4 linked regions of the Homo sapiens genome follow. The protein of the gene in region 2 interacts with the protein of the main gene of each other region in a pairwise test. Each region holds a gene or a part of one and is shown on either strand. Other genes may lie near its edges. The genes, in order: HMOX2, TRIM69, FAM110A and KRT17.

What was found.
Region 1: the proteins of TRIM69 (region 2) and HMOX2 interact in binary tests that used the Homo sapiens proteins (3 or more experiments, as listed by UniProt).
Region 3: the proteins of TRIM69 (region 2) and FAM110A interact in binary tests that used the Homo sapiens proteins (3 or more experiments, as listed by UniProt).
Region 4: the proteins of TRIM69 (region 2) and KRT17 interact in binary tests that used the Homo sapiens proteins (3 or more experiments, as listed by UniProt).

What each region holds. Positions count from the first base shown.
Region 1 is NC_000016.10:4,499,745-4,507,907, forward strand, and holds part of HMOX2 (heme oxygenase 2), read left to right. Parts: intron 1-2,999; exon of another isoform or gene 3,000-3,215; intron 3,216-5,739; coding exon of another isoform or gene 5,740-5,780; coding exon 5,781-5,866; intron 5,867-7,150; coding exon 7,151-7,268; intron 7,269-7,968; coding exon 7,969-8,163.
Region 2 is NC_000015.10:44,752,847-44,761,009, forward strand, and holds part of TRIM69 (E3 ubiquitin-protein ligase TRIM69), read left to right. Parts: intron 1-2,053; coding exon 2,054-2,530; intron 2,531-3,521; coding exon 3,522-3,617; intron 3,618-5,766; exon of another isoform or gene 5,767-5,774; coding exon 5,775-6,008; intron 6,009-6,793; coding exon 6,794-6,816; intron 6,817-6,901; coding exon 6,902-7,026; intron 7,027-8,163.
Region 3 is NC_000020.11:842,552-846,777, forward strand, and holds the end of FAM110A (protein FAM110A), read left to right. Parts: intron 1-2,091; exon of another isoform or gene 2,092-2,156; 5' UTR 2,157-2,253; coding exon 2,254-3,141; 3' UTR 3,142-3,726; downstream 3,727-4,226.
Region 4 is NC_000017.11:41,621,576-41,629,623, forward strand, and holds the start of KRT17 (keratin, type I cytoskeletal 17), read right to left. Parts: upstream 3,001-8,048; 5' UTR 2,935-3,000; coding exon 2,503-2,934; intron 1,458-2,502; coding exon 1,375-1,457; intron 937-1,374; coding exon 780-936; intron 180-779; coding exon 18-179; intron 1-17. UniProt on the Homo sapiens protein: Type I keratin involved in the formation and maintenance of various skin appendages, specifically in determining shape and orientation of hair. Required for the correct growth of hair follicles, in particular for the persistence of the anagen (growth) state.

The sequences.
Region 1 (8,163 bases), on a different chromosome or scaffold from region 2:
CCAATGTATACATGTGTCCAAACATCACACTGTACCCCATAAATATAATTGTCAGTTAAAAACTTAGGAGTCAAGTCAGATCTGAAGAGAAGTCAAAACAGATTTCATACAGTTAATTTAGAGACATGGGACCCAATTAAAAATTTGTATTACTTTACTTGGTATTTTAGAATTTAGCTGTTATTTTCTTGTTACACACACAGGCACAGGCACACAAATCCTCTATTTAACTGGCTTTCTCAGTAGGAACTCCATCTGTGTATTTGCAACAGCTGTAACTCAGGTTGGATGCTCCCCAGGGTGCTGGCCTATAAGTCATATTGGACCCTGATCTGAATCTGAGGGAATCTGGATCTCTCTTGTAGGAAGCTTTTGGTTTAACTGGGAAGACAGGATGACAGTCAGTTGTGGAAGCTGAAGCGTAATCACCTCATATTAATATGGTGGCAATTTTATATCGGAGTGAGCTCTGAGCTGCAAACAGCCTTCTAGGAAGCAGGCAGGGGACCCCCATCCAGGGTGATGGTAAGAATCCTGATGCCCAACTGCAAGGTGTTCAGCAGGGAGGGAGCACTCGTGGAGTCCCAGTGCAGAAGTCTCTGAGCAGCCACTTAGCCTCCCTGTGTTTGTGGGGTAACAACCCGAGTTCATGTTGTGGGCATCTCATGCAGTGTAGTAGCTGGTCACTGTCAAGTGTCACTATTTCATTGAGTCAGAAGCCTGCAGAATTGTTCTCATTCCAGGGAGTGAGTCAGTCTGCTGTTGCTTACTCTCGGTGCTGGCTGAGCTCAGCAACCTGCTCTCTTCCTTCAGTTCAGGTTTCTCCAGGGCAAAGAAGTCTTTATTGTTCCTTTCTGTATGACCAGATGGGAAATGAATTATAATATAGTCCTTAGATTATATTCCCACCTGGTAGCAATGCACTGAGTTACCTGACCTGAAATTTGTTGGACTTAGTCTCCATGGAGGAGGATTTACCATCTTCGTTGTCTCAGAAGTCCTGGTAGTGCCTCATGCCAGCAATTTAGCAGGAGCAAAAGCTTTGAGACAGTGTTCTGGATCTGCTGAGCTGGTCTAAAGGAACCTCTTTTGCTTGAAGTAACTGTGATAGGAACTTTGTTACTGCTTCTGTTAGCTCAGGTGTTGGAATGAGAATCAGCAGCTGATGAGGTGAACAGCTAGGAGTACTGGAATTATGGAGTAGTGGAGGTAGATTTTATAAACAGAGGGTCCCAGTTTTTTGGAAATGGGAAAGAGAGAGGGTAGACTGGCCTTTCTAGAATTTGTAACAGAAAAGAGGACCCAGGAGCTTCCATTGACTAGTTAGTTAATGCAGTGCGGGATCTTAGCTGGTTTGCTTGGTCCAATTCCTGTCTCTCGGTTTCTTTTTTCCCTTCCCTTCGCTGCCTTCCCCTCCCTCTTCCCTTTTTCTTTCCAAGAGAATTGAGTCACTCCATATAAAAGAAGCAGCCAGTTGGCTAAAAAGTCCAACAAAAAACAAGTATTTATAGCTCTCCAAATTTCCCACTTGTCATTATCAGTATACTTTTGCACACAGTTATAGTCGGTGTTTGGGATCCTTTTTAAAAAAATAAAAAGTTTCTGTAGGCTTTTCCATGCATGAACACAGCTTATCAACTTGCCCCGGCTGTGCCAGGATTCCATTGTTGACTGTTGTTTGAGCAGTCATGCCCTTTGTTCTTAGGCTGTGTGTTGTTTTTTTCCTAACATCATAGTATGGCTGGGTATTATTTTGATACAGATTACAATTACTATTACTATTTCTTGAAGTGTATTTCCCAGAGTGGAATATTTTAGGATCTTTTTTTCTCTTTTGTGGGGGTGGGGAACATGTAGCTTCTTGTGGATATTAGACATTGAAGTCTAAAAAGGTTCTATATTTATGATTTGGCCCTCAATTTTCTAGAGATTCCAATGGTTCCTGCAAAGAAAAGAGCATTCAAGTATAGAAACCAGCCAGACTAAGTCTGGACATGTAGCTTTTCAGAAAGTGAAAAAAAATTATGTTTCTGCAGTTGCAAGGTGGCCTCTGAATGCCACACTGTGTGGCCACTCCCTTGGACAGTGGCTAGGCCACAGGGTCGCCTCCCCTGGCCCCAGTCTGTGGGTTGAATATGCTAACCGAGCCTTCCCAGGAGCCTCCTCTGCCCCCAGCCCCCAGGTCTGTACAGATGGTAGTTGGTACTTTCAGCCCGCCTTGAGAACTCAGTATTCTTCCTGTTAGCTTTCCTTCAAAGTAAAATCGGTAGAACCTATTTTGAGTGTAGAAAATTTGAAGTCGTGGACAGCAGATTACAAAAAATTGCCCACCACCATGCCTGGCTCATTTTTGTATTTCTAGTAGAGATGGGCTTTCACCATGTTGGCCAGGCTGGTCTCGAACTGCTGACCTCAGGTGATCTGCCCACCTCGGCCTCCCTAAATGCTGGGATTATAGGTGCGAACCACTGTGCCTGGCTCCTTTTTGTATTTTTCGGAGAAGCACAAGGACTTGTTGTTTAATTAAGCAAGACTATACTCTCCCAGAGCATGCAGTTATTATTGAGTAAAACACAGTTAATGAGATTTAATCACGTTCCCTATCACTGTTGTGCAGCATGATAAGTAGGTGCAAATGGCAAGAAGCACGCTGAAGTTACTGCAGTTGGTAACCTGGGCCATGGATGGCACTTGTCTTTGCCTCATTTTGCCTGTAAGAAGCATGGGGCCTGTGGTCCTGGGGTACCTGGACCCTCAGCCTGGTGTGTGTGTGCCCTCAGCCTGGTCCTTTACTTCCATCACCCATCTAGAGGCTCCAGGACCCTTTACTGCACCCCTCCCTCCTCTAGATAGCTCAGTGTTTTCATCCCAGCACCTTTTTCTCTGCTGCCTGAGAACTGAGCAGCCAGAGACAAATTTTGGCTCTCAGGGTCCTCAAGGGTGTACAGCAAAGCTGTTCTTATTATTTAAAGTATTTTATTTATTTATTTTTGAGACAGAGTCTTACTTTGTCGGCCAGGCTGGAGTGCAGTGGCATGATCTCGACTCACTGCAACCTCTGTCTCCCAGGCTCAAGAAATCCTCCTACATCAGCCTCCCAAGTAGCTGGGATTACAGGCTGGAGTGCAGTGGCTCCATCTCGGCTCACTGCAACCTCCGCCTCCCAGGTTCAAGCGATTCTCCTGCCTCAGCCTCCTGAGTAGCTGGGATTACAGGTGTGTGCCACCATGCCTGGCTAATTTTTGTATTTTTAGTAGAGACAGGGTTTTACCATGTTGGCCAGGCCGGTCTCGGACTCCTGACCTCCTGATCTGCCCACCTCGGCCTCCCAAAGTGTTGGGATTACAGGCGTGAGCCACCGCGCCCGGCTAGCAAAGCTGTACTTTTACCAAAAAAAAAAAAGAAAACATTTATAAATCAAGGTCTGAAGGCCCATGTGAGGCTTATTCTACAGCTTGCAATGCCTGTTTTTGCCCCTTGGTAAGTGGACGCACAGCTGGGCAGCCTTATGCTATCTCTGTGAACTACCCATTTCTGGCTTTGTTCATAATATTCCCTTGATCTGGAGGCCCTCCCCCAGCCCTGCCCCAAATCCTGTCTGTGTTGAGGGTCCTGCCCCAGGAAGCCCTCTGCATACTCTTCCCTGCATGTAATACCTGCCTGCTTTCACATTCTTCTAGACTGTGCTGTGCATCGTACAGTTCATCAGCATTATTGCAGAGTAGAGTGTCTCTGATTTGGAGTCAAGAGAAGGTTCCATTTTTCTGTACATCCCGATGTTTATTTTCTGAGTGTTCTCAGACATCACTAAGCCTCAGTCAAAATAAAGTATGATCATGATGTAACATTCATTGAGTGCTTATCACATGGTAGGCATTGTGCTATATGAGTTATTGCTTGACTTCCTAAAATAATCCCAGTAGAGATGCTAAATCTAAAGGTGAGAGAGATGGTTCAAAAAGACCTCAGTGAGCAAACCATGTACTATAATATCCTAAAAGATAACAAAAATGTAACTAGGTATCTAGAGAAAACTCAGGAAGGATATGTGCCTTGGGCCTTTTAAGGACCATTTCTTAACACTTCTGTGTTCTTCTTGACACCTGTTTCTGGGTAGAGCACATAGAAAATGCTCAGTAAATAAGTTCTTTTTCCTTGGCCCAGTTTGGCCTGATTTGGCCCCAGTTCTGTCTTTGTGAGTTACTTTATTAGTTGTCGGTGCTACTGTGCTGCTATTCATGTGGAAGATTCCCCAAATGGGCTGCGCCTTACATTGCCTGAGCAGAAGCCCCGAGGGATGGAGGATGAGCTTGCCTTGTTATGGGACTGTGTTTCCCTGGCTGACAAAGGCTCAGCATTTGCAGCAGGCAATGGGAATTGATTGGCCAACTTAATATTTCCTTCAGCCTAGCAAAGTCCTGAGTAGGCTAGGGACAGTCTGCTTTTTTGGTAACTCCTGTAGGCTGCCTTCTGCACAAGGCACCCAGCCTCTCACAGGTAGGATGAACTGGCCTCAGCACGCTTGCAGAGGGGTGGAACTGTGCGTTGCTTGCCAAGCTTTTTGTTTCCCTAAGGTTTTTGAGGTTTTCTTTGTTTTTGGTAACTTTCAATTTTTTTTTTTTTTTTTTTTTTTTGGACAGAGTTTCACTCTTATTGCCCAGGCTGGAGTGCAGTGGCGCGATCTTGGCTCACTGCAACTTCTGCTTCGTAGGTTCAAGTGATTCTCCTGCCTCAGCCTCCTGAGTAGCTGGGATTACAGGCACGCGCCACCACATCCGGCTAATTTTGCATTTTTAGTAGAAACAGGGTTTCTCCATGTTGGTCAGGCTGGTCTTAAACTCCTAACCTCAGGTGATCCACCCACCTTGGCCTCCCAAAGTGGTGGGATTACAGGCATGAGCCACCGTGTCTGGCCTAACTTTTAATTTTGATACGGTCTTTTTTTTTTTTTTTTTTTTTTTTTTAAGACAGTTTCGCTCTTGTTGCCCAGGCTGGAGTGCAACGGCGTGATCTCGGCTCACTGCAACCTCTGCCTCCTGGGCTCAAGAGATTCTCCTGCCTGAGCCTCCCGAGTAGCTGGGATTACAAGTGTGCACCACCATGCCCGGCTATTTTTTGTATTTTTAGTAGAGACAGGGTTTCACCATGTTAACCAGGCTAGTCTCAAACTCCAGTCTGCCTCGGCCTCCCAAAGTGCTGGGATTACAGGCATGAGCCACTGTGCCCTGCCTTGATACAGTTTTAAGCATACAGAAAAATGGTAAGAATAGTACAAAGAACTCTCATACCTCTTCCCCAGATTCACTGCTAGGATTTTGCCTTGTTTGCTTTTCTGACTTGCCAGTGTCCCCCACCCTGCAGCATATGCACATGCACACACACTGTCTTCTGAACCATCTGACAGGGAGTTGCAGGCAGTGTACCTTTACTTCTGAATACCCCAGTGTGTATTTCTTAGGAACAAAGACATTCTCTTATATAATCGCAGTACAATTATTTTTAAAAACCAGCAAGCTTAATGTCAATACAATGCTATTACCTAATACATTGTTCATATTCAGATTTTTTCCATATTCCACTATGGTCCCAGTAATGGCAGAGCTTTATTTTAAAGAAAACAATCCTGGGGTGTGTGGGTGTCACCTTGGTTACATTCGCTCTGAGGAAAGCAGAACCGACAGGTATTTGGGGAAGTGACTGCCGTGGGTGCCACATCACCAGCTCCTTGTGTCTCTGCAGGACCAGAGGAGCGAGAGCAGCAAGAACCACACCCAGCAGCAATGTCAGCGGAAGTGGAAACCTCAGAGGGGGTAGACGAGTCAGAAAAAAAGAACTCTGGGGCCCTAGAAAAGGAGAACCAAATGAGGTGAGCGATGGGGGCTGGCTGCACTGAATCAGGTGGGCCCAGCACCTGTCGTGCTCAGCACACCTGGTTTTGTCTGTTGGCAGCACTGGGGAGTGGCCATGGGCCATGAGCTCTGGACCCCTGGGTGCCTGCTTGGCCCTGCAGGGACCGCATACAGCTTCGGCTGCTTAGAACTCTCCCCACTGGTCCATTGTCTCATCCAAGGAGGCAGGGCAGGTGCTCCTGGGAGTGCTGATAGGATTTGATGGTAGTTATCCTTTTTTCTTTTTAAAAACTTGTGCGTTTCCTCATCTGGGCTGAGAAAGGGTAAACGCAGGCAAAGCTGGCTCTGTTCAGTCTTTTACCACATAAAAGACTGCAGGGCAGCCTTTCCTTACTCTGTATAGGGACAGCTCATGCTAAACCTGAGCTTCCAGGCCCTGTTCTGCATCATTAGCCTCTCATAGCCCTGTCATTGGCCAAGTTTTTTTTTTATCCCTTGAAATAATTGCTAATAATAAATTGATTCTCAGCACATGGATGATAACGAGCTAATCTCCTAAAGAAGACAGCAGAAGCCAGACCATGATAAGGCCAAATTTTTCTCACTCTTGTAGATGGATTGTGTGGACACATGTAAGCCCCTGCCCAAGTACCACCATCTTTAGGATCACATGTTTTCTACCTTGTCCATCCATCCACACACCTTTACAACTGTGTAATTTCGTTAAGCAGCACAAACCCAGCGTCCTGGCCCTAGCCTCTCGGTTGTCTCCTTTGCATCCTTCCGTGCTTGGTCCTAGTCACATATAGTCTCAAAGAAGCTGTGGGTCCAAGGTGGGAGGAAGGCAGTAGGGCCATCTGAGGAGACCCATGGTCACAGCCTTACTGAGGTGTGTGAATTCCAGAAGACACGTTCCAAGGCAGGCTGTTCTTAGAGAAGCCAGCAAATACTGAAGGGAATACAGATGTGTGTCTCTTCGACCACTAGGTGGCCACAGAAGCAAAGCATTGCTCATTTGGGTGGTTCCCAACACAGACACATGGACGTGGGTACTACTCTCAAGGAGCAGGCCACAGTTATCCCTTGTGTCCTGAGTCCTTGGAGCAGAATGTCATGTCTGCTTGTCCTGTGTTCCCTGACAAGTTGCTGCTATTTGTGTTGGAGTGAAGTGTCTGAGAAGCCCCAGCCTCCAGTACAACAGGTGGTCACCTTGGGGTGTGGACTCAATCTTCTCTCTATGGTCCTTTCTGGAAAGCTGGGAAGGGCTAATTGACACACAAACACCTCCCATCTCTCCACAGAATGGCTGACCTCTCGGAGCTCCTGAAGGAAGGGACCAAGGAAGCACACGACCGGGCAGAAAACACCCAGTTTGTCAAGGACTTCTTGAAAGGCAACATTAAGAAGGAGCTGTTTAAGGTTTGTGCCCCGCATTGGGTTCCAGACTGTCATATGGGGTTGGGGTGGGGGCCTTGGTCCCATGAGAAAAGTGCCCCTGGAGCCACTCTGAGGGAAAAGCTGGGCTTTTCTCCACACTCCATTCCTTCTTGACGTTAAGCTCTGGCTCTCGGCTGGGTACAGTGGCTCATGTCTGTAATCCCAGCACTTTGGGAGGCCGAGGCAGGTGGATCACTTGAGGCCAGGAGTTTGAGACCAGCCTGGCCAACATGGTGAAACCCTGTCTCTACTAAGAATACAAAAATTAGCCGGGTGTGGTGGCGCGTGCCTGTACTCCCAGCTACTTGGGAGGCTGAGGTGGGAGAGTCACTTGAACCTGGGAGGCGGAGGTTACAGTGAGCCGAGATCGTCCCACTGTACTCCAGCCTGGGTGACAGAGCGAGACTCTTTACCCCGCCAAAAAAAAAAAAAATTGGTTCTCATGGCTTAGATAGAATAACATAGTGGTGTGAAGGAAGCAAAAGTATGCGTGTTCCAAAGACTTCACCATGCCATTCCTTTAAGAAACAAAAGCTTCCTTGTGTGTTAAATAATTCACTACATAAAAATGGACCATAGGATTGGGTCTTTGGGGTTGGGGGTTGTCACTTGAGCCTCTGCATCCAGCTGCTCGGATGTGGTGTGCTCAGGCATAGCTGGCCTCCTCCTGTCACCTCCACAGCTGGCCACCACGGCACTTTACTTCACATACTCAGCCCTCGAGGAGGAAATGGAGCGCAACAAGGACCATCCAGCCTTTGCCCCTTTGTACTTCCCCATGGAGCTGCACCGGAAGGAGGCGCTGACCAAGGACATGGAGTATTTCTTTGGTGAAAACTGGGAGGAGCAGGTGCAGTGCCCCAAGGCTGCCCAGAAG
Region 2 (8,163 bases):
ATTAATGCCAACTTAGTTTTAATAGTACAAAGCAAAAAATTTTACTATAAAAACTCTGCTCCTTTTCAGCTCTGTTTTCTCCTTTTTGTTGTTATTATCACCAATTATCTCTTTATACATTGCATATCCATTAACACACATAACTATTGTTTTGTGCATTTGTCTTTTATATTGAATAGGGGAAAAAGAGGAGTTAGAAACCAAAAACTGCAATATTGGACTTTACCTATGTAGCTACTTTTTCACTGGTCTCTACTTCTTTATATGGCTTGGAGATACTTCCTAGTTTCCTTTCATTTCAACATGTAGGACTCCTTTTAGCATTTCTTCTAGAGCAGATCTACTAGCATTTTTTGTAGATTAAGACTACTAGACAACTCCTTCAGTTTTTGTTTATCTGGGAATGTCTTAATTCCTCTTTTCATGAATATATAATTCTTTATTTTTAAAAAATTTTAATTAAAAAAAAGTAGAAACAGGGTCTTGCCATGTTGTTCCTGGGCTCAAATGATCTGCCCACCTTGGCCTCCCAAAGTGTTGGGATTACAGGTGTGAGCTACTGTGCCTGGCTGGATACAGAACTCTTAGTTAACAGTTTTTTTCTTTCGGCAGTTCAGATATGTCATCTCTCTCCTTCTTGGCTTTCATATTTTCTGAAAAGAAATCAGCTAGTAATCTTACTGAGAATCCCTTGTATGTGAAGAGTCATTTCTCTCTTGCTGCTTTCAAGATTCCTTCCTTGTCATTGGACACTTCAATTATAATGTGTCTCATTGTGGATCTCTTTGAATTTATCCTGCTTGGAGTTTGTTGAGCTTCTTGGATGTAAAATTTCATCATATTTTGGAAGTTTTCAGCCATTACTTTTTCAAAAATTTTTTTTTTTGAGACAGAGTTTCACTCTTGTTGCCCAAGCTGGGGTGCAGTGGAGTGATCTCAGCTTACTATAACCTCCACCTCCCAGGTCAAGCAATTCTCCTGTCTCAACCTCCCAAGTAGCAGGGATTACCAGTGCCTGCCGCCATGACCAGCTAATTTTTTGTATTTTTAGTAGAGACAGGGTTTCACCATGTTGGCCAGGCTGGTCTCTAACTCCTGACCTCAGGTGGTCCACCTGCCTCGGCACCCCAAAGTATTGGGATTACAGGCTTGAGCCGCAGTGCCCGGCTGCTTCAAACATTCTTTCTGCATTTTTCTCCTTTCTTTCTGAAATTCTTATTATGTCTGTTTGATAGTGTCTTGTGGATCTCTTAGGCTCAGTTCATTGTTGGTCATTCCTTTTTTTTTTTTTTTTTCTGAGATGGAGTGTCATTGTTGTTGCCCAGGCTAGAGTGCAATGGCGTGGTCTTGGCTTACTGCAACCTCTGCCTCCTGGGTTCAAGCAATTCTTCTGCCTCAGCCTCCCAAGTAGCTAGGATTACAGGCGCCTGCCACCACACCCAGCTAATTTTTGTATTTTTAGTAGAGATTTTTAGTAGAGATGGCTAACCATCCTGTGTTAGCCAGGATGGTCTAAATCTCCTGACCTCGTGATCTGCCCGCCTTGGCCTCCCAAAATGCTGGGATTACAGGCATGAGCCACTGCGCCTGGCCTGAAATGTGTTTTTTTAAAAAGGAGTGAAGGGGACCCTGGATGGTTGACGATATCACACTACTGACTAAGGAATCTGATTGATTTTCCAATTCTTTGTATATAATTTCTAGAAAACAAAAATAAAATAAAGGTAATAACTAGTAGAGCAGAAGTTGAAAAATAAAACTTTCAAAAGACACTTGGGGAAAGTGGGTAAAGAGAGAGATGTACAACAAAGTACATTTCTTTGATTTAGTACTGTTTCTTCCTCTGCCTTGATTCTTTATTAAAGTTTAAATAGCATCATACGCTATAATTTCAGAAAACACTCAAGTTACTGGTTCACTTTCAAAGGAGAGATTATGTGCTTTTACTTTAGTTGTACCAATTTTCAGCTCCTTTAGGAATGGCGCCATCATCCTGGAGTGTTAAAATGGGCAACAAGAAAGATAAACTCATTTTAGCTGTTCTTTTCTAAAGGTATCCACCAACCCCTCCTCCAACATCGATCCAGGCGACTATGTTGAAATGAATGATTCAATCACCCACCTACCCTCTAAAGTGGTGATACAAGATATTACTATGGAGCTACACTGCCCTCTGTGCAATGATTGGTTCCGAGACCCACTGATGCTAAGCTGTGGCCACAACTTCTGTGAAGCCTGTATCCAAGACTTTTGGAGGCTGCAAGCAAAGGAAACATTCTGTCCTGAGTGTAAGATGCTATGTCAGTATAACAACTGTACATTCAACCCTGTACTGGACAAGTTGGTAGAGAAGATTAAGAAGTTACCCTTACTCAAGGGCCATCCACAGTGCCCAGAGCATGGAGAGAACCTGAAACTGTTCAGTAAACCAGATGGGAAACTGATCTGCTTTCAATGCAAGGATGCTCGGTTGTCTGTGGGGCAGTCTAAGGAGTTCCTGCAAATCTCTGATGCTGTCCATTTCTTCACGGTGGGTGAGCCCTGGGCCTTGAACAATCCCTTAGAAAAACTAGGAAAAATATTTCATAGGGCTTCTTCTTTCTTCCAACCCCATCCCTTTATTCAAATGATGATTAGAAAGCCCAGACTGCTCAGAAAGTACAACGTATCTTGCAAAGTTCTTTTTCTAGAGTTGCTGCTTATAGGAAAGGAACAGTGGAGGAGCCCTGGCTTACTCCCTCAATCAAATCTGTACCTAAACTCTGCCATGGTAGCACTCTGCTAAACACTGTGTAGAATATGGATAGATAAGATATTGCTCTTGTTATAAAAAATTCAAAATTTGGTTAAGTTTAAAATGAAGAAAACAACAGAAGCAATATTAAGATAGCCTCGTGTTAAAAGTTAAATTTTGTCACATTTGTAATTCTTAAGGGTTTAGAATTTCTGAGACTATTAGAGAAAAATGAAATAGGGGACATATAGTGAAAGAAAGGGAAAGGACTTGAACTGGGAAATCATTTGGATTTTGAAGGGCAGAAGGAAGAAACAAATGTTCCAAGTGAGAACAACACAAGTAAAATGATAGATGCTGAGAACAGTATATAACTAGAGTGGAAAATGTGTAGAGTTCTATTCCCTTCTTCAAATCCCTGTAGCTAGCTACTAAGAGAGAAAAACTAAGTTTTAAGCTGTAATTTACTCCATAATTCTTTTTTTTTCTTTGTTTTGAGATGGGTCTCACTATGTTGCCCAGGCTGGTCTCAAACTCCTGGGCCCAAGTGATCCTCCCATCTCAGTCTCCCAAAGTGCTGAGATTACAGATGTGAGCTGCCACACCCGGCCTTTTCTTTTCTTTTTCACAATTCTTGAACGAGACAAGAACTATGATACAGGGGAAGGGGAAGATTTTTGCAGCAAGAGCTTGCTTTTTTCTTGCACACTGGGGCCTTGGGGAAGATGTCCTTTATGGTCCTTCATCTCCCGAGTTAGTCTGGGTTAATTCTATTTGATATTCCCAGGAGGAGCTTGCCATCCAACAGGGTCAACTGGAGACAACTCTGAAGGAGCTTCAGACCCTGAGGAACATGCAGAAGGAAGCTATTGCTGCTCACAAGGTGAGGAGCAAGAAAGAGGGGTTATGAGATAGAACTGGAACACACCCTCCATGTAACTTCAGCTATGGGTACAAAGGTGCCTAACATATATTATCTACACACTAAATGGTACCTAGGCTATGGAATTGGAAAACTGAGTCTGTAGGGTGGAAAGGAATATGGTGGTGGAGTAGGTTCCTAATAGCTGATCAACAGAGCAGATTAACCTTTCCCCTAATATGCTGATCTTTTCGATAGTTCAGTCACCAGGTGACTGTCGTGGCGTTGAAATGTGTCTGGTCTTTGGCTTTATCTATGGCAAAAAAAAAAAAGGAACTTATTAGAAAAAAATCAATCACTAAAGATTGCTATGTCCAAAGAAATACCTTTATTTCCTTTGAGTTTATAACCAGACACCTCTGGACTAGGTCTCTAAGGTCATAGGCTTTTCCCAGCTGATTTGATCTTCTTAGCTTCCTCCAAGCTAAATAAAGCTATTGTCTGCACTTTCAACTTCATAGGCACTCTAGGACAACATTAATGGCTAGAGCTTTGGCAAATCAGTCCCTAGATTGGGGGTGCTAAATTGGAAGTTCTGTTTCTTTATTCATTATTCTATGGAGAAGAGCCTTCTCAGGTATTTGGCATCTGGAAGAAAAAAATATGCAGACTCAGGGAAAGAAGAAGGATATATGGAAGTAATGATGTCTTCAGAAAATCTTGTTCCTTTTGTAAAAGTTCCTATTAGTGTGAGCATTCATTCATTCATTTAACAAATATTTATTGAGTGGGTCAGGCATAATACTAGATATTGGGGATGGGAGACAGCTGTTAATTAAATAATCCCATGAGTAATAATAAAATAACAACTGTGATAAGTACTATAACTGAAAGTATAGGGTATGATGATAGCATATAAATGGAGAACATAATCTAGACTGGGGGAGGGGTGTTCTCTGAAGAAGTCACATTAAAAATTGAGAATTGAAGGATAAGTAACTTATCCAAGTGAACTGGGTGAGTGGGGATATGAAGGAGGTAGCCTGGAGAAGAATGTTCTAGGAATAGAAAAGAGTATCTGGAAAAGTCCTGAGATGGAAAGTTAGCTGCTATGTTAAACAGAGAAAAGGCCAATAAAGCTGGAACATGCTAAGCAAGATGATATTGATGAGGTGGATATGGGCTCACTGTAACCTCATACTCTTGGGCTCAAGAGATCTTCCCACCTCAGCCTCCTGAGTATCTGGGACTAGTTTGCCACACATGGCTAATTATTTTATTTTTGGAGAGACTGGGTCTCACTATGTTGCCCAGTCTTGAACTCCTGTTCCAAGCAATCCTCCCAGCTTGGCCTCTATAAGTGTTGGAATTACAGGTATGAGCCACTGTGCCCAGCCAAGACTATCTTAAGGTGCAATAATAATTATGGACCATGGGATCCAAGCTAGATAAGAGAGGACATGAAGGTAGAAGTTCCTGAATAGAAATGGAGGGATCGGTGAATAGGAGGTTTCAATGAGATCCAATAATTGTTGCAATAGGAGTATCTGAGTGAGCCTGGTGCATAAAAAGTTATTTTGGAGATGATACAATTGCTGGGGGTGATAAAATCCTAGGTGAGACTATAGGAATGAATCAATAAATGTGGAAATCACTAGAAATGAGGAGAATGAGGAACTGAGAAGCCAGGATGTCAAATAGTTTAACTGTGAGGATGTTGAGGTAACCCAAGGAAAAAGCTGCAAGTGTAACAGTGGCATTCCCCCAGTTCTGATTTCTAGGTAAGGACAGTTCTTCCAGCCTCCCAATACCCCCAGTCTAACAGTACCACTTGGCAGCTTTTGGATTACCAATCTAGGAGGGTATTATCTTTCATTCTAGAATGTTTGACTAACTCCACAGTCTTATTTAATATGGCATTGGTTACCATCTCAGTACTGCAATAGGAAACTGGAGGTCACTTTTGCCTATTTCATCCTGAACTATTAAATTAGTTGGAAAAGGAGTAAGTCTCCCAAAGGACTCATTTTAGTATGACTGAATTTGATATTCAGTAGCCATTTGTATGCATTTTTCTGTGATGGTATTTACCAAGTGTGTGAGTGTTGGTGGTGTGGGCCCCCATCCCCAAGCACTAGTCTCTGCAATAACCATGGTGATAATCATGGAGGTTTCCAGGAAAACAAGCTACATCTGCAGCAACATGTGTCCATGGAGTTTCTAAAGCTGCATCAGTTCCTGCACAGCAAAGAAAAGGACATTTTAACTGAGCTCCGGGAAGAGGGGAAAGCCTTGAATGAGGAGATGGAGTTGAATCTGAGCCAGCTTCAGGAGCAATGTCTCTTAGCCAAGGATATGTTGGTGAGCATTCAGGCAAAGACGGAACAACAGAACTCCTTCGACTTTCTCAAAGTGAGAATCCACACCAATATGATTATGGGTACCTTCCTACCTAGAGGGGGGAAGAGGTTTGGAAAGAATGCGGAAGTGGCTTTTCACATCCAGGGAAAACAAAACAAAACAAAACAAAACTGTTATAGTGCTTTTAAGATTCTCTGGAAGAAAAGGAGGAGGCTGCTTCAGCTATACGCACAGCAGAAAGCTTTACTTTCATCCTCTTAGGAAATACGATTTTTAAATTCCATTAATAATAGTATATAGTAATGGTTTAATATTTTTCCATAAAGAGCTTGATGCTTTATTTCTCAAAAATAAAAATGTTGCAGCCTGAGTTGTATCTTTGGCTCTCAGCAATCATAAGCTGACCTGTCTGAAAAGCTGTTTTCTAACCTTTGCTTTCTTAAGCTTCACCTCTAAAGAAGCGTTGGTTACCATCTCAGCACTCAGAAGTTTAATTAGCTAGAGTAAGGAAAAGTGGCCTTGGGACTGGGATACCTAATGTGTTTTTCTTCTGAGACTATTTGAAAGTATAGGTAAAGATAGCTTAACCTTAAGTATTGTCTTATTGGCTTCTGTCTTGCTCCCTGTAGAAGAGAACTCTAGAAAGAGCAAAAGATCAATTTAACCTGGGTTAGGATCAGGGATGAAGATTAGAAAAAGTGTATGAAGGATGAAAGAAGTTGGTAGAGATGAGTTCGGGACCATCTGCACAAATTCTGGTGGTGGCTGGTATCACCAAAGAAATTTTGAGAGTTGATGAACGGGCATCTGATGTCTCTCTTTCTCCTTTCTTCTAGGACATCACAACTCTCTTACATAGGTAAGTGTTTCCCTATGGTACTATTAATATCATTCCTTGAGTCTCTGGAGGATGTCTAAGGATAAATGATTTATGTGCCCTGCAGCTTGGAGCAAGGAATGAAGGTGCTGGCAACCAGAGAGCTTATTTCCAGAAAGCTGAACCTGGGCCAGTACAAAGGTCCTATCCAGTACATGGTATGGAGGGAAATGCAGGACACTCTCTGCCCAGGTATCAGTGGGTAGTAACTATTGGTTCTTGAGGCTCCTAATCTACGTTTAATCTGTGGGACTTCTTCTGTGGCCCTAATTAAGTTTTTACAGTCTGGGATAGGGAAGGGGTACAGTTTGGCCAAAAGGAGGCTAGTTGGTATGACTGAATTTCTTCTAGTACCATGACCTAAGAATTTATGACTTTGTGCTGGTAAATAGATATGAGTTTGATATCAGGATTACTTCTTAGCATATGATTTTGACTGATTTATGAAATGTGGCAACAGCCAAAATTTTATCTTGTTTTGCTAAATCAGCTATATGAATCCCAGGGGCTTCTCTGAAGAAGGAGGAGGTTTCTGAACATACTCTTTTTATGTACACTGGGTCTTTACAGTTTCTTTTGTGCTTGATGTTCATAGCGTAGAACATTTTAGAAGATTGTTTAGATCTTCAGTGCTTCAGAAGAAAACCAATAATTTAAATAAACATACCTAAGAAGGACACTAAGTTTTTGTGTTCCTGTAGATACCAAAGGACTGAGCAAGATAAAATAACACACATGGCATTTCAAGAACATCAAATAAAGTTCTAAATAAAAATCTTTATAGAAATAAAATTCTAAATAGAGTTTTTATAGAATTCATAGACTCATCATTATTATTATTGTTTATGGTTATTGATTTAATGAGAAATCACAAATATATCCCTGATTTAATGAAAAATCGCAAATTTTTCCAGGTAATTGACATTGAAGAAAAATCAACTATACTGAGATATAGTTAACATAGAGTAAAATTATCCAATTTTAAGGGCACAATTTGATGAGTTCTGATGTATATATACACTTAGGTAAACCTCTCCATAATCAAAATATAGAAGATTTTTATCACTCCAAAAAGTTCCTACATGCCCCTTTGAAATCAATCTCTTCCTTCTACTCTCAGCCTCTAACATTCACTGACATGTTTTATTTCACTTTAAATGTGTCTTTTCTAAATTTTTGTCTAAGTGATAGCATACATTATGTAGTGTTTTGTGTCTTCTGGTTTTTTTCACTTAGCATAATTTTTTTTTTTTTTGAGATGGAGTCTCGCTCTGTTGCCCAGGCTGGAGTGCAGTGGTGCCATCTCTGCTCACTGCAAGCTCTGCCTCC
Region 3 (4,226 bases), on a different chromosome or scaffold from region 2:
CCCATCCACTCCATCTCTCCTGCCTTGGGAGCAGCACCCAAGGATCTATTCCCAACTCATGGCTGCTGCAGAGGTCTCCAGCTGGTGGTTGGGGGCCAGATGGAGGAGGAGGGGACAGATATGTTCGCAGACATATTTTGTTTGCTGTATATGCAATGTTTTAATCATTATTATCGAATATGCTGACAGTTAAGAATCTAGAGTTTTTATGTACTCCTGGATTTCCAGCTTCCTGGAACAATACACCTACCACCTTGGACCCATATGCCTGCAGCAGGCAGGGTACCTAGATGTCTAGTTCATCCCTGATCACCCAGTTCACATCTGGCTCCCATAAATATTTCAGTTCAATAAATTTTTATTGAATATTCTGCCCTAGTATGTGTCTAGGGCAGTATCTTGAAACTGGGGTATAGTGAACAAAATAGCCAACCCCCGCCCCTACACACACACGCCTGCCCTCATGGAGCTGATATTTTAGGGGGATAGAGACAACAAAGAGTAAAACAACCATACACAAATAGAGTACTTGTGCAGGGGATAAGGAGAAAAGGAATAGTGCCGGGAGGGGGTCAGGAGTGCCGGGGAGAAACAGGACGTGGTATTGAGATCAGTGCCTTATTTATCTATTCTGGGACCTGGGAAAGCCACTTCTCTGAGTCTCAGTTTCTCCATCTGCACAACGACCCACAGGCTTGTGGGAGGTTATAGGGAGGATGGCACCCAGCAGAGATCCCTGCCTCCCCACCCCAATCCAGACTCACTCCCTTCTGGATTTTTGGATGTCTAGGTGGGGCTGTCCAATGTAGCTTCCTACCATGGATGGAAATGCTGTACTCTGTGCTGCCAAACACAGTGGCAACTGGCCACATGTGGCTATTGAGAACTTGAAATGCCACTAGTGTAGCTCAGGAACTGAATTTTATGTTTTTATTTCATTTAAATTTAAAGTTAAGGTTGAATAGCCACATGTGGCTGCTGGCTATTGAGCTGGACAGCACGGGTCTAGATGGCTTGAACTGTAAGCCTTCTTGGGGAACACCCAGATTAAGTACCCGCCCCCTCCATTTTACAGATGAGAATGTTTGGGACTTGGTATGTGGGTTTTCTTCTGTCCCATCTCCAAGGGGCCTTGTGGGGTGACTCTGTGGGCTTGGCCCTTCCTTGGAAACAGGGTCAGGGTTGGCTTGATGTCTGGGGCATCAGGTCCTGACACTTGGGTGACCACGTAGACACTTGTGCATCCAGGTGTATGCCCTCCTCCCAGGTGAGTACCCATTCCATGGCTGCAGGCAGATCGAGGGTCTGCCGGATGCCTCCATGCAGGGCTGTGTGATTTTGGACATTTCCAGCTTCTCTCAGCACAGCATAGCTCAGGGCTGATGTTTCCACGTGACAGGCATTTGTGGATCACCGTGGGCCATCCAGTTCCATGCAGGAAGCTGACGGATGTCTGGACTCCACTGGGGCGCGGGTGGAGATTTTCTTTGCTCCTTCCCTATAAGCTCTGCCCTTTGCCTGGGGCCTGGCATGTCTAGGCGGGTGGATGGCACAGGGCAGCTTCCTGCCTGGATGGGTGAGGGGTAGAGGTGGTACCAGGCTCCCTGTGGGGAGTCCAGGTGGGGTGTGGGGCTGGAGCCCTTTTTCTTGGTCATTTAACCCTACGCCCCGGTGCCAGCACCTTCCTTTTTGGTGGTCAGGGGCAGAGCCACCTACTCGCTGGGTTAACTTAAGCAAGTTGTTTGCCTCTCTGGGCTTCAGTTTCTCCATCCAAAAAACGGGGCTGTTGAGAGGACCTGAGGTTGAGTTGACTGGTGCGTAGCACAGAGCCTGGAGCCTCCCTTGCTCCCTTTAGCGCGTGCCTTGCCCTGTCTTTTCTGCTCAGGTTGCCCAGGTCGCCCAGGTCTTTTTTCTCTAGCACCTTTTTTCCTCTCTTGGTCTCAGCTGGGCCTGGTTCTCCCGGGGCAGGAGGGAGGGGGTGTGGGTGGGGCCTGAGGCCCCGCAGCTGCTGCCTTGTGCCTGCTGATTGGCTCCTTGTGGAGGGGCGTGGTCTCTACCTTATAATAGGGAGGGCGTCTTATCCTCTCAGCCGCGGCTGAGCCTCTTTGTCTGAGCGCGCTCGGCTTTTTTTTTTTTTTCTCTCTCCTTCCCTGCAGCAGTGGCCGGTGTCCAGCTGCCTACTTTCTGCCCGGATCTCTGGCTCCTCATCTCTCCGGTCTCCGCAGACTAAAGCCCTCGGGATATGCAGCAGCCATGCCTGTGCACACGCTGAGCCCCGGAGCCCCGTCCGCCCCCGCCCTACCTTGCCGCCTGCGGACCAGGGTCCCTGGCTACCTGCTACGGGGGCCGGCAGATGGTGGAGCCCGGAAACCGAGCGCTGTGGAGCGCCTGGAGGCCGACAAGGCCAAGTACGTCAAGAGCCTGCACGTGGCCAACACCCGCCAGGAGCCTGTGCAGCCCCTGCTGTCCAAACAGCCGCTCTTTAGCCCTGAGACTCGCCGCACAGTGCTCACGCCCAGCCGCCGAGCCCTGCCTGGCCCCTGCCGACGGCCCCAGCTGGACCTGGACATCCTCAGCAGCCTCATCGACTTGTGTGACAGCCCCGTGTCCCCTGCCGAGGCCAGCCGCACTCCTGGACGGGCCGAGGGAGCCGGCCGTCCTCCCCCAGCCACCCCTCCGCGACCGCCGCCCAGTACCTCTGCGGTCCGCCGGGTGGACGTCCGCCCCCTGCCCGCCTCGCCTGCCCGGCCCTGCCCATCACCCGGCCCTGCCGCCGCCTCCAGCCCAGCCCGGCCGCCGGGTTTGCAACGCTCCAAGTCGGACTTGAGCGAGCGCTTTTCTAGGGCAGCCGCTGATCTCGAGCGCTTTTTTAACTTCTGCGGCCTGGACCCGGAGGAGGCGAGAGGGTTGGGTGTGGCCCACCTGGCACGGGCCAGCTCGGATATCGTGTCCCTGGCAGGGCCCAGTGCTGGGCCGGGCAGCTCTGAAGGGGGCTGCTCCCGCCGCAGCTCGGTGACTGTTGAGGAGCGGGCCCGGGAGCGCGTTCCCTATGGCGTGTCGGTGGTGGAGCGCAATGCCCGCGTGATCAAGTGGTTGTATGGGCTAAGGCAGGCTCGGGAGAGCCCAGCAGCTGAAGGCTAGGCGCCACTGGGCCTGGAATTCGCCACAGGACGGATCTTACAGAGGCAAGTGGTCCCTGGACCTCTCTTGCATCCATTCTCTAGACGGCCGTGTCAGAGGCTCCACCCTGTTGTGAACTTGGTATGGAGGCAAAGGCTTAGAGGCTGGACCAGCATTGTTGGGCAAGGACTGACTCTCCAAGGGTTTTGTTCTTGGCTTTGGACACCTGAGAACCCCCTCCTCCCCTCCCCCAATACAAGGTTTTTGACATGAGTGTACTCCTGCTTAGTTCCTCTTGTGGGGCTGCATTTGCGGTGCTTTGCCCTCCCCACTGTGAGTGAGGGGCCAAGGGATCTCCTCAATCCTGTCTCCCCAGCGGCTCTGTTTCCTCCTTCCTTCCTTGGCCTCTGTCCTTTGCTGACTTCCTCTTCCTTACCCAGCAGAACTCACCCTGGGGTCGGGGCAGTGGGGAGGGGCCTATCCACTGCTCTTCCTAGTCCTTGGCAGCTGGCCTAGGTGGGCAGACTATAGGAGGGACTGGTTAGGAGTCTGCATTGCTTTGACTTCCCTCTCCTTGGTTAATAAACACAAATGCTTGTTTCTCAAGGGCTGGGCCTTCAGACTCTTCTGTGTTCACAAGAGAAAGGGTGAGAGAAGTCTTGGGGTGGGGCCATCAAAACAGTAATTGTTCACCCCGAGGTCTAGTGGTGGGGCATGATGATAGCGGCTGGCCTGGCTGGAGACATGTCCCCGTGGTGGGTTCTCATAACTCTCCTGGAAGGCTAGCAGGCCTGCCTCATCGAGGAGGAAACTGAGATCCAGCCATGAGTGAGCTGGAATAGAGCTGGGAGTAGGAATGGGGTCTTTCCCCTGCACCAGAAAGGGAGCCTGCAGGGGAAAGGCCGATGGGGTGCATAGACTCTCCCCAACCAGGAGTGTTCCATCCAAGCCCTGCCCAGTTCCCAAGGGGGCAGGAAGCTCGGAGAGGGCAAATCCTGAACTTGAGGTCACACAGACCATAGAGTGAGGATGAGAAGTGGGAGTTTTGGAGGAAGAGAGACTTGGGGTGGACGGCACAAAATGAGTGGCCTCCCTGGCGATCTTGG
Region 4 (8,048 bases), on a different chromosome or scaffold from region 2:
CCTGCAGCACCCCCCACCTTGCTGAAGAACCAATCCTCGGCATCCTTGCGGTTCTTCTCTGCCATCTTCTCATACTGGTCACGCATCTCGTTGAGGATGCGGCTCAGGTCCACGCCTGGGGCAGCGTCCATCTCCACATTGATCTCACCACCCACCTGGCCTCGCAGGGCGTTCATCTCCTATGGAAAAAGGGGATGTGGATGTGCGCATCTGGACCCATCCTGACCTCTCACTCCCAAGCCTTCCCCCACAAGGGGACCCCACTTCCCACAAGGACCCCTCCTTTGTTCTCCCTCTGCTCTATCTGACCCTCTAAATGATTTTTATTCATCTGCTCAGTATTGCCTCCACCATCAGACTCTATCTCCCCCATTAGACCAAGGACTCTCCAAAATAAAATCTAATTATTAGGCCTATGCCCCCAAAAGTTCCCCTCTAATTTCCAAGCTTCTATGTAGATGTTCAGCTTTGAGAGTTTGAAATGGGACAAGATTTCCTTACTTATCCCCCACCCTCATGAGGGAGGCAGGGTAGGTAGAGGGAGCCTCTGCAGGCCCCTGGGAGGTTCCTTGTGTACAGAGAAGCAGTGTGGTACAAAGAGGAGTCTGCCCTGCACACTGGACCCCAAGGATCAGGGCTCTGCAGACAGGGAAGCCCTCTAAGGTGACTAATCCCGGTGCACCTGCTCTGCTCTCTCCCACGGCCTCAGCCATTGCCCAGCCCCAGGGCTCTGCCACCCACTCCTCAGCATCTTTGACCTTCTGCCCCAGCCACCTCACCTCCTCGTGGTTCTTCTTCAGGTAGGCCAGCTCCTCCTTGAGGTTCTCAATCTGCATCTCCAGGTCGGCTCTGGCCAGGGTCAGCTCATCCAGCACCCTGCGCAGGCCATTGATGTCGGCCTCCACACTCAGGCGCAGGGCCTGCTCTGTCTCAAACCTGCCGTGGGAATCAGAGACTTCAGCCCAGGCTGCTTGGACCTGCAGATCCAGGTCCTGGCTGCTCACCTGCCTTCATTTTGCCAGGACTCTAAGGAGTTGGAAGGGCTGATGAGAGGGTCGAGTGGAAACGAATTCCAGCCCCGGGACCCCGGGACCATCACAGGGCCAGATCCCACGCCCACCAGCTTCCTTACTTCTCTCTGCCTCCCGCCTCCCGCCTCCCCTCCTTCTCTTCTATTCCCTGCCTAAGCTCAGCAACCTTCAGAACTGGCTGCCTTCACTGCATCCTGGACTAAGGAGTGGGGCTCCTAGGACTGCCCCACCCTGAGCTCCTGGGCCTTGCCACAAGCAACCAAGGAATCCTGGGGTCAGGAGGGGTACCCTGAGATCCTCCGCCAGCTGGCCCAGGCTGCCCAAGGCCACAGCTAGGACTCACTTGGTGCGGAAGTCATCAGCAGCCAGACGGGCATTGTCAATCTGTAGCAGGATGTTGGCATTGTCCACGGTGGCTGTGAGGATCTGAGGAGAAGGGAGAGTAGTCAGGTCATTGGATGGGGGTGGCTGAGCCCACACCAGGGTTCTGAGCAGATCTTCCTGCCTCAGGGCCTCTCTTCTCGCCCAGCCCCTCCCTTGCCCCGTGCTGTATTATTGGCAGAGGAGGGGCAAACAGGAGTCTGAAGGGCTGAAAGGTGCCTCTTCTTCCCCCGATACTCAGTACCCCACCAGACCCCCATGGCAGGCTCGGCCTTAAAGGAGAAGAGACAGCTGGCTGGGAGTATGAGGCAACCAGAAAAGAATGGGAAAATGTCCCCAGGGCAGAAGCTGTCCCAGAATTCTAGAACAAGGGAGGGGATGTGGGCAACCCCCTCGTTTTACAGTCAGCTAGAGGGTGCCCCTGACAGGCTCCCCCAAAAGGAGGCTAAAGGAGCCCTCATTAAAGAGTGGTTCCAAATCAAAAGTCAGGACCCCTCCTAATCCCTAACCCTGGGCGCCAGCCAGCAGCCCCGCCCCCTGGGGTTTGCTGAGCCCGTCTTAAGGGACAGCAGGAGGAAAGGAGAAGCCAGAAAAATCCCCAAATAAGGCACATCAGAGGCCTTCCCCACACTGAGGTCCCGCCCCCTCCTTTCTGCCTCCTCCTGCAGCAGGTGCTATCAGGAGCTCACTCAGACACCCCCACTCCACATCACCCAAAACCCCCTCCTGTTGACCCCTGCTCCAAAGGAGCAAGACACCACACATCCAGCAGCCCACGGGCCCAGCCCTCCATCTGCATCCTCCTGCCTCATCCTACAACCTCTCCAGGTGGCGGAGCTCCACGAGGGAGAAACTGAGGCTCCAAGGGGCTCCACAAGGCCTCTTTGTTCCTGACTCAGCTTGCTGTCCCCAGAAAAGGGGGATGTGAGCCACACAGGGGCCCCAAGGCAGGTTCCCAGAAGCTAAGCCACAGCCAAACCACCCTTGGCTCCCTGAGACCCTATGGCTGGACTCCAGGCCTTTGGCCAAGGCAGGAGTTGGGGGGAAGAAGTCATGCCCCCCGGAGACCCCTCCCACCAGCAGGCCCTACCTTGTTCTGCAGCTCCTCAATTGTCCTGTAGTACTGGCTGTAGTCACGGGCGGGCCCCGGGGCCTGCCTCTGGTACCAGTCACGGATCTTCACCTCCAGCTCAGTGTTGGCCTCCTCCAGGGCACGCACCTTGTCCAGGTAGGAGGCCAGGCGGTCATTGAGGTTCTGCATGGTGGCCTTCTCACCTCCAGCCAGCAGCCCATCAACACCCCCAAAGCTGCTGCCATAGCCACCACCAGAGCCAAAGCTGTAGCAGCTGGAGTAGCTGCTACCCCCGAGGGTGCTGCCCAGGCCGCCAGCAGATCCCAGCCTGCAGGAGCCGGCACCCAGGCCGCCAGACAGCCGGCAGGAGGTGCGGGACGAGCCGCCCCCCAGGCCGGAGGAGCCCTTGATGGAGCTGGAGGAGGTGAACTGGCGGATGGAGGTGGTCATGGTGGCGGCGGCAGGAGGCAGGCACACAGGAGAAGGGCTGGAGAGGAGAGGGGCCCCAAGTTGTGTAGGGCTGCCGGGGTTCGCCCGCTTCCTTTATAGGCCACCAAGTGGGCGTAGCGATTACAACAGGCTTGCTCCTCTGTTTCCATTCCCCTGGGCTTTCATCACCACTGGCCACCTGCCAGCTCCCAGGTGGCTGGGGGCCCCCTCCCCGCCCATCATCAGGAATTTGCCTCATTTCTCCAAATCCTCGTGCTGAGTGCCGTGCGTGTGCGTGCCTCTGGTCTCAGGCCCGTCACCTGTGATTCAGGCGGGCCCTCCAGCTATGCTTTCCCATGACCTAATACGGAGAAGAGGAGAAGGCAGGACGTCACCGTCCCCAGGCCCTCCCAGGCAGCCACCACCCCAGCCTGGCCCGCCTCAACCCTGTCTGGTGGGGAAATGGGTTGCAGTGTCAGCTGACCCCCCCGCCAAAGTTGCTGTCTTTCACCCCACACTGCTCCACCCACGGTGCTGGCCCCGGGGCTGGGTGCTGAAGAGAAAGAGGAGACCGAGAGCCTATCCTGCCTTGGAAACTGAGCCCAAACCCACCAGGCCCACCTCACAGCATAGAAATGCCATCAAGCCTCGGAGACCAACCCACATCACAGATAAAGAAATTGGGGCTCCAGAGGGGTGCCGTGTCCACACTGGCCCCTTCTGCAGAGCCTGACACCCAGGAATGCACTCTAGGGGCTACAGTTCCATCCAGTCAGCTTCTGACCCTGCCCCATCCCTAGAAATCCTTGCTAACCCAGTCTCTTCGTGTAAACCTTTCCCCAGGTTTACACTCCAGGCTGGGGTGGGCAAACAGGGGCTCAGCTATAGGATGGGGAAATGGTGGGCTGTGCCAACTGAGAGGGGGATGCCCCCTTCCACTCCCCTCACCCTTCTGTACCCCAAGAGACCTCAGGGTCAGGTGACGGGTATTTATCTCAGGTCTCAGCCCACAGGAAACCTAAAGGACATTGCCCAAGAAGAGGCTCTTACAGAGACCCCAGCCAGCCCCCTTCCCACTCCAGGCTCCCCAAGATGTGGCTCCTCAGGTGGGCCATGTGCCCCACCCCACAGCCCCACCCTGCCCTGCCCACCACCCCAAGCCCGGCCCTGGGTCCCAGGGTCCCGCCAGGCCCGCTGGGTGGAATGTGGTCATGTTTCAGACTGCCGATGGCTTCCACTTCCCAGACAGGCCCAGACGGCCCCGCCAGCAGCCGAGAGACATTCCTCAATAGCCCAGTGGCTGCCAAGCCACCAAAGCAAACAGGATGCCCCCTACGCGTACACGCACAGCGGCCACCCCGCCCCACACACACCCCGAGCTGGGGCAGAGCCGGTCTGGTTTCCTGGGCTGGCTGCGTCACTGCCATGCCCTCTCACTCATCAATGCCATGGACCACTCCTTCAGAAGCCCCTCCCCACCAAGCCCCTCTCCTTCTGCTCTTGAACCCGCCCTGGGCTGAGGCAGGGAGTGCTCCCCAACAGGCACCATCCTTGGAAAGTCTGTGTGGCCCTCCCAGGGACCAGCCACAGGTGACAGGGACTCAGGGGCTGATTCTTAGAAACTTTTCCCAATACAAGGGGCTGTCCCATCCCTCCACCCTTAATCTTTCCGCCTCCTCCCCTCTCATCTTTCCAGGAGCCCCAGGCCTGGATGGAGTGGGCAGAACAGATTGGCAGGTGACAAGCCCATACCCAAACACTCAATAAACTCCACCTCCCCCAGTCCCTCAGCCCACACTGCCCCAAACCAATGAGCAGATCAGATCACACGAGGCATTGAACTTGGAGCAAAGCTTTAATAGTAGGCACTGGACAAACCCAGGAGGCCTCCTCAGTGAGGGGCTGCAGAAAGTAGATACAGAAAGACAACAGGCCATGCACCGGGGCCCAGACGGACACTCGGGGCGTGGCAGTAGCATGCTGGGAGCTGGAGCTGATGGCTGTGCCGTGGCCCTCGAGGTGGGGCTGTCGCAGACAGAAAGGGGTCTCAGTGGGTGGAGAAGTGGACCTGCTCACAGAAGAAGACCACCTCTCCAACCTGGACTTCCTCCACGATGGCACACCTGGTGGCTGGTCACTGTGGCTGCAGGCGATGGAGGAGGGAGGCACAGGGAACATCAGGCAGGAGCTCTTCCCCCCGCCTGCCCCCGCGTCTGTGGTCCCCCCAGTCTCCCACACAGAAGGGTCCTCAGCCTCTCCCCTGCCTTGGGGTCCACACCGCAGGACAGGGCAGCTTCTTACCTTCCCGGGTGGGCTGCGAGGCCAGGGACAAGGAGTACTGAGTGGCCAGCCTGCAGGGAGAGAAGCACCCATCAGCCCAGGGATGCCAGCCAGCCCAGGCACCTGCAAGCACTGCTGGGGAGAAGTAGGCCCTGGCAGAGGAGGTTCCCCTAAATTGGTGAAAAATCACAGTTGGGAATGCACAGAAATTAGCGCAGGCCCAAGAATGAAAGGGCAGGGGTTCAGCACAGCAGGAAGAAGAAAAAGAAACAGCACAGCAGTAGGTCTGGCGGCACTCTGTGGCTACTCACCAGGAATTTACAAGGAGAAGCTGAGCAAGTGGTTTTTCCATAACCCAGAGGGCCCAACAAATAGACCCAATTAAAGCAGGAGAGACTGTTGTTAGACTATAGATGGACTTCACCATTTCCGGGGAGCAAAAAGCTGCAACGTGTGACTAAGCATGGAGACTCCGGGACACTCTCAGCTGAAGGCCTGATCACCCTTCCCAACTGCAAACCCAACCACCACCCACCTTGCTCTTCACCACTCACACAGTCATCAGAACCAGAAACCCAGGGCCATCAATGCCTGCTCCTTCATGTGTTCTCCCGACACTTACTGAGTCCTGACTGTGAGCCATGCTTACCCCGAGATCCAGGCATCCAGTCCCGCTGTTTTGAGCTATAACCTCTCTTCTGCGTGCACCACCTTCCTTCCCCTGCCCCACTACCCACCACCGCACGGGACTTCTCTGGCCAGACTCCCTGCTCCAGCCCCCTGACACATCTCTCTGGCCCCGCCCTGACCCCTCTGATCCATTTCTCCCTCTGCAGCCAGAGTGAATGTTCTAAAATCTCTTGATGTTCATTTCACTCTCCTGCTCCAAATCCCTCCATGGCTCCCCATTGCCTACGTGATCTAGTCCAGACGCTTTAACTTGGCATTCAAGGCTCCTCAGCCAGACTCCAGCCTGCATCGTCAGTATCACCTCCTGCAAACCCCAACAGGTTCCGACATTCACACCTCCTGAATTTCGCTGGTGCTCAGACACCAACTTCTCCCTGGGTGAAGCGGGCCCCCAGCCCACCCCAACAGGCACCCTGGTACACACTCACTGGGCGTCCTCAACCTCCAGCAAGCGGCGGTAGGTGGCGATCTCCTGCTCCAGCCACGTCTTCACGTCCAGAAGGACCTGTGCTTGTGGTCCTGGTGCTCCGTGTCGCAGCAGAGCTCGCACAGCTGCTGCTCCATGCTTCTGTTAAGCCCCTGCAGCTGGGCCGGCAGGGTCCTGTAACACACCTCCATCTCCACCAGGCTGCCCTCCAGCGATGCTTTCTGTGGGCCAAGAGATAGGTGGTGTGATGAGCTGGACCTGGGACCCTTCCCCATGGCAGAGCACTAGAGAGGAGCCCCTCCTGTATGGGGCTGTGGGTGCTGCCAGCACAATGAGGTGGTAGTGCACCCAGCCACTGAGTGTGAAGGGACAGGCTGGGTGGGGACTCTGGTTCCCCAAGCAGGGGTCTACAAGGCTGGGCTCACCCTGGGGTGACAGGTACAGGGTGGGGAGGGGACAGAGACCCTACCTTGCTGAGCTGGGACGGCTCAGGTTCTGCACAGAGACGTAGAGCTCCATATCTCTATCCAGCCACTCTGCAGGGCCTCTGTGTTGGTGGCCACCTCGCAGTTCAGCCCCTCTTTCTGGAAGGCAGAGTGGGCCACAGGGGTTTATGGAGACTTTCAGAAGCGGGGCACAGGAAAGGGCTGCTCCTGAACCCTCACCTCCCAGAACCATCCCCTAGCCCCTCCCTGGCCTCTATGGGGCCCCAAAGGCACCTGCACACAGAGAGCCTCTGCACCCACATTGGAACTTGGAGGAATTCAGCCTGCTCTGCGGTCATTTGCATTTCTTTTTCCTACTGAACTGCAGCACCTCAAAGACAGGCACTGGGTGTTATTCTTTTGCGCCTGTTGCTGTCCCTAGGATACCGGAGATACTCAGCCTGTGCTTGCCAAGGGTATACATATGTATTCAAATACGCACATCCTGTAAACAGCTGTGGTGGAAACCCAAGACCAGACTTGTAGAGACCTGGATCTATTTTGCAGGCCACAGTGAAGGGCTGTGTGAGCTTGAGTCCTCTCTGAGCCTCACGTTTTACATCTAAAACATGAGGGGCTGGTCCAACTGGTTTCCAAAAGTCCTTCCAACTGGGACAGCCTGTGGATCTGCCAGTGCTCCAGCTGCACCAGCATGCAGCACATGTGCCCACACGTGTACACACCTGCTTACGCACGGCCACCCACCATGCTGAAGAACCAGCCCTCGGCATCCTTGCAGCTCTTCTCCACCAATGTCTTGTCCTGGTCACGCATCTCATTCAGGATGCAGCTCAGGTTCACTCCAGGCACAGTGTCCATCTTCACACTGACATCCTCATCCACCTGACCTCAAAGGACGTTCATTTCCTGGGCAGAGAGGACAGCAGAAGCTCACCCAAGGCCATCCTGGAGAAAGACCCTGGGGCCTGCCTTCTTTCCCTCGGAGAGACAGGTACAGATGACAGACAGACAGACACAGATAGGCCAACAGCTCCTCACCCTGAAGGTGGAGGTGGATGTTGTCATTTCTCAAACATACAGGGCTGTGAATATTAGCAACCTCCCCCAACACACACCGTGACGCGGGACTGGAATTCACCCATCCCCAACAAGTGCTAAGCCCCGAGAGATGACAACCCCCCAGCACGGTGGAGGATGACCACGGGCGACCTCACTCACTGCCCTGACCTTGCCCCCACCACTGCCTTGCCCCCACCACCAAGCCCACAGCACAGGCATGCAGAAAGCAACCC